Homo sapiens: one gene and its partner. The protein of the gene in region 1 interacts with the protein of each later gene in a pairwise test. Each region holds a gene or a part of one and is shown on either strand. Other genes may lie near its edges.

What was found. Proteins that work in one complex are often made in the same cells at the same time.
Region 2: the proteins of EBP (region 1) and SLC48A1 interact in binary tests that used the Homo sapiens proteins (3 or more experiments, as listed by UniProt).

The regions. Positions count from the first base shown.
Region 1 is NC_000023.11:48,524,808-48,527,011, reverse strand, and holds part of EBP (3-beta-hydroxysteroid-Delta(8),Delta(7)-isomerase), read right to left. Parts: intron 24-2,204; coding exon 1-23. UniProt on the Homo sapiens protein: Isomerase that catalyzes the conversion of Delta(8)-sterols to their corresponding Delta(7)-isomers a catalytic step in the postlanosterol biosynthesis of cholesterol.
Region 2 is NC_000012.12:47,776,238-47,779,737, reverse strand, and holds part of SLC48A1 (heme transporter HRG1), read right to left. Parts: intron 711-3,500; coding exon 543-710; intron 1-542. UniProt on the Homo sapiens protein: Heme transporter that regulates intracellular heme availability through the endosomal or lysosomal compartment. In macrophages of the reticuloendothelial system, is the heme transporter for heme-iron recycling.

The sequences.
Region 1 (2,204 bases):
GTCTCCCTTGGCATACTCTTTCCCTGAAGAAAAGAAGAGAGAGATATGAAGAATAAAGGCAGTGAAAGGAACACACACTTGTGAGAGCTGGGGGTCCCTGCAAGAAGACAGACTTCATAACCTTCCCATGCGTCTGCTTCCTCATCCGTGAAATGGGGTAACTGTTTGGATTCTAGTGGTTTATTTCTCTAAAACAAGGTAATATGTGTAAAGCCTGACACAAAACAGTGTGGCTGTGATTGGTACTCAAGAAGTGTGTGTGGTATAAAAGGAAGCAGGTGTAGATGATGGAGTGAGTGAAGTAGCCAATGAGAGAGAGAGAATGTAGGTGAACAGATGAGTGAATACAAGAGTGAGCAGAGAATCAGAAAGAAAAAGACCGCCGGGCACGATGGCTCATGCCTGTAATCCCAACACTTTGGGAGGCTGAGGTGGGATGATGGCTTGCATAAAGGAGTTCAAGACCAGTCTGAACAATATAGTGAGACCCCCAACTCTATAAAACATACAAAAATTAGCTGGACGTGGTGGCACGTGCCTACAGTCCCAGGCTGCAGTGGGAGGATGTCTTGAGCCCAGGAGGTTGAGGCTGCAGTGAGCTATGATAGCACCACAGTGCTCAGCCTGGACAACAGGGTAAGACCCTGTCTCAAAAAAAAAAAAAAAAAAGAAAGAAAGAAAAAGATCATCCAATATAAAATAGGCAGAAGACTTGAATAGGTTCTTCACAAAGAGGATTTCTAAATGGCCAATAAGTATATGAAAGATGTTCAAACTTCCATTAGTCACTAAGGAAAAGCAAATTAAAACCATAATGAGATATCACTCACATCTACTGGAATGACTAAAATTTAAGAAACATCTGACCAGCCGGGCACAATGGCTCATGCCTGTAATGTTTTTTTTTTTTTTTTTTTTTTTTGAGACGGAGCCTTGCTCTTATCGCTCAGGCTGGAGTGTGCAGTGGCGCAATCTCAGCTCACCACAACCTCCGCCTCCCAGGTCCCAGAGATTCTCCTGCCTCAGCCTCCTGAGTAGCTGGGATTACAGGCACCTGCCACCACGCCCAGCTAATTTTTAGACTTTTAGTAGAGACGGGGTTTCACTATGTTGGCCAGACTGGTCTCAAACTCCTGACCTCAGGTGATCTGCCCGCCTTCGCCTCACAAAGTGCTGGGATTACAGGCATGAGCCACTCTGCCCGGCCTTGTTTATAATGGCAGAAGATTGAGGGAAAATGCCCATCAATACTACACAAGTCAAGCAACTGTACAATGTCCATGCTTTGAAAGCTCTTTATGAAATCATGAGGAGTGACCTCATTAAAAAAAGCAGCTGGGTGCGGTGGCTCATGCTTGTAATCCTAGCACTTTGGGAGGCTGAGGTGGGCAGATCACTTGAAGCCAGGAGTTGGAGAACAGCCTGGGCAACAAAGCAAGACGCCATCTCTTAAAAAAAAAAGTTGTTAAAAAAAAAATAACTTGGTGGGGTGGCACATGCCTATAATCCCAGCTACTAGGGAGGCTGAGGCAGGAGGATTGCTTGATTGCCCAGGAGTTCAAGGTTGCAGTGAGCTATAATCATGCCACTGCACTCTAGCCTGGGTGACAGAGCGAGACCCCGTCTCAAAAAAGAAAATGGCTTCTTTGGTTTTCTTGTAAGGAAAGAAAGAAAAAGAGAAAAGATTAGAAGTATATATAGCATATTACCATTTGTGTAAAAAGGGAAAAGTGCAAATAATGATAATAATAGTGAACAGTTACATGGCAACCACTGTTTGCCAAACACTGTTCTAAGTATCTTACATATAGTTGGTTATTACTATTATCCTCCTTTTACAATTGAGCAAATTGAGACTTACGTGTGTAAATAAACTGAAAAGAAACATAAACAACTATCAACAGTGCCTAACAGCGTTTGGGGAAACTTAGTGGATAGAAAGCAGATTTTCACTGCAAATCTCTTTAAATGGTTTTTTGACCCACGTGAATATACATGCAACAAAAAAGTTAAATAAGGCTGGGCACGGTGGTGCGCACCTGTCATCCCAGAATTTTGGGAGGCTGAGGTGGAAGGATTGCTTGAGCCCAGGAGTTAAAGAACAGCCTGAGCAACATAGCAAGACCTTGTCTCTACAAAAAAGTGAAAATATTAGCCAGGCATAAAGGTGTGCACCTATAGTATAGTCCCAGCTACTGGGGAGG
Region 2 (3,500 bases), on another chromosome or scaffold:
TTCCTAACAGGCCACGGACCACTACTGTTCCACAGCCTGGAACAGTAGAACGGAGCTGGGGACCGTTTTAGAGTATTCCAGGGTTTTCAGGCAGGAGGCCGTGGGGATTAGGGAAGGGCAGGGCTGGCCAATCACAGGTCTGTATCATCCACTCCGCTTTTGTGACAAATACCCTAGGCCACCTCCAACCTGCTTTAGTTAGCATCAGACTCCCGGAAGAAGGACCTCTGGTTATTTCCAGCCACAGCCACCAGAGGGCGCTCCCATCCCAGAGCTGAGCACAGACTAATGGGTCCCAATATCAGGAGTGCTTGTATGGGCTATGCACTGCTCAAGACTTCACATCAGTTTCATAGAATCCACCCAACTTGCGAGGTGGGGACTTGTTTTCTCCACATGAACCATAACAAAACCCGTGTCCGGGGAGGTTAAGTAATTCACCCAGTCTCTTTGGAGGTAACCTGTGGAACCAGGATGGGAATGCTGCTAAAATCCCCGCTGCTGTCCCTCCCATGCCCTCTTTCCCTGGGACCCGCCCTCACTCTGATGCCGGGTGATGGCCAGCACGAGGAAGGTGCAGAAGGCAGCGATGGAGACGGCCGAGAAGAGGACGCCCACGAAGAAGAAGCCGCGCAGCCCCTTGAGCCAGGTCCTCCAATAATCTTGCATGTACATCACGTGCGTCACCAGGACCCACAGTGCCAGCACCCCTGCAGGAGAGACACATCAGGGCCCATCCCCAGGGTGCTCCAGAGCCCTGCAGATCCACTAGACCAGGCCTATTTGCATAAGAATACCAAGAATATGGTCTTGTCTCTCATTCCCTCATAGAATGGAGTTTTCCTTTTCGGAGGCTGTGATATCAGAAGCAGGTAAGAGACTGAGCTGCCTGCTAGTAAGCCCAACATTAGAGAAACCTGCAGAAATACAAAACCCTACCATTCTCTCTGATTTTATTTTGTTTTGGAAAACATGAATATCTCTCACAAAAATGTTATGTTAATTCATGTTATTTTTAGTATTACTTTAAAATGCTAAAAAATGTTCTAACTTCTAATATAGTATATATCAATAGCTAAAACTCACATACATAAAATTTGCATGGAGTTTCACTACTTTTCAAGAGGATAAAAGGATCCTGAAAACCAGAAAGTCTGTGCCTCAGCAGCCCAGCCTGCTTTCTGGGGACTTGCCACTGTCTACCCTGAGGGCCACAGAGCAGGGAAGCCATGCTCCTGCCCCATGCTCCTCCTCCACCCAGCCCTCAGAGGCCACAGTCTCAAAGTCACAAGGCCTGCAGGGCTCTTCCCAAACTGCCTGAGTTGGTTTTGCAGGATGAGGAGGTCCAGCCATGAAGACTCCAGGGCCACCCAACCCCTGAGTGGCCTTATTGTTCTTGGCCAGACCTCATGCCACTCCCTCCATTTTGCGGCAAAGGGCAGGCCATCACCACCTGCACCGCTCCCCACCCCCACTGCCCCCAGCTTTTCCTGGGCCTGGCCTCTGCGCCTGGGTGGACACTTCCTCTAGGATGCCAGCTGCCACCCAGCCAATACAATACAAAACAACCCTCTGTGCCAGGCAGTGCCTGCTGGTGCAGCCCAAAGAGTGGAACAAATATCAACTCCATTGGCAAGGGTCCGGGCAGGGCGGTGGATCCCGGCAAGGGACAAATGAGGAAGGAGGCAGAGCCAGCTGCAGGCTCTCAGCTGGTTGGGTTGCAAGGTGTGGGCCACTCAGGCCGCTGCATCCTAGGAGTCAGGAGGCCTTTCCAAAAGGCAGCTGCACACATGCCACTCAGAGTAGTTACCAAATGTGCACAGGAAGGATAAGCATCTGGTTGGGGAAAGTGGTTATCTCTGGCAATGGAGACAAGGAAGGGAAGTTGATGGGGCGGTGGGGGTGGGGAAGTGCTTTGAATCTATGGGAATCTATGCTATTTTGTTTCTTAGGCTGGGTGGGAAATCTATGCTATTTTATCTACGCTGTTTTCTCAGGCTGGGTTATAAGGGTGTTTGTTAAATCATCTATCCTTTTTTGTGTGCCTAAAATATTTCATAATTTGTTTAAGGGGGAAAAAGGCAGGAGGAAGCTTGTCACTGTGGAGCTATGCTCTGGTTACCAGCTCAGAGGCTGTCCCAGTTTGGCTGTCCCCAGACAGTCCAGTGAGGAACAAAAACCCATGAGACTCCAAGCCAAGAAACCAGGAGCCTGGCACTGCTGTGTCCCAAAGCCTTGGTGTTTCCACATCTAAAAATGGGTGGGCCCAGGGGTCCTGCCAGTTTAGGTAACTGGGCCCAGGGTTCTACCCTAGTGAGGGTGAAGGCCTACCAAGCCTACAGCTTCCCTCAGCCCCTGCCACCGTTTGACCCCCTGAACACTCTCCCAGCTTTGCCCCTGCCCACCTCCACTCTTCCTCAGGGGGTGGGGGCCTGGAATGTGGGTCCCCCTCCTACTGAGATCAGGGTGGGCCAGGACAAGCATCTGTTCCTCCCCACCTAGTCTGGATGCTGGAGTGGGCCAGAGGTGGACAGGACAATCATCCTGCAGCTTCCTCTTACCTCCTACAAGATCTGGATTTTTATACCAGCCACCTTTCACAGAAGTCCCTCCCACTCCTCACATGTGTCCCATGTTTTCATTTGAGGGAGCTGTTTGGTTTATAAAGGGCCCTGGGAACAAGGGGTGTTGTCACTGAGCACACTCAAGGAGCAGTCTGATGGGCACCTGTCTGGAACAGGTCCCCTCGCCCTCTGTCTCCTCGTGCCACAGAGGGGTTGGGGAAGTTGAGCTCTAAGATCCTTTCCCACTCAAAGATTCTAGAAGCCAGCTTGGGAGAAAAATAAGGTCAGAACAATTCCTCTGTGACTCAGCAGTTTCTGGGTTAGGAAATGCTGAAATAGGGGCCTGTGAAGATGCCATCTCTTAGTCCACTGGCCACGATCCAGTGGTTCCCCAAAACTCCCACCCCCATGTACATGCACATACCAAAGAGGGCTGAGGGCAGGAGGGAGAGGAAGACAGCCATTTGGGGGCGTTTTGGGCCCTGTTCTTTGTTAACAACAGGCATGGTTTACCCACCTCTCACCTTCCCTCAACCTTGCTCCAGGCCCTGCACAGAGGCCTCCCCTCCAGATAAACACACATCAAGTGTGGAGGCAGGCCTGCTGCCCACGCCCTGGCTCCCACCACCCTCCTGGGAAGGGAGCTCTCCACCAGCCCTACCCAAGGGGGTCACTGAAGGAGATGGAGCCCCTCACTGGTCCCCTCCCACACATCAGGCAGGAGGCAATGTATCTCCCTAATACCCTTCCCTGGCACACTTGGGGACTCTAGGAAGCCTGGTTTATAAAACTCGGGGTGGAATGGACAGGTCCCCAATCCCACCTGGCTGCAAGCCCACACCAGACCACACCGTTGCTCCATCCTACCTGTTTCAAGGAGCAGAGCCCCTGCTTAGCCATGTGAGCTTATTGGCTCACAGCCGATAAGCTAAGGGT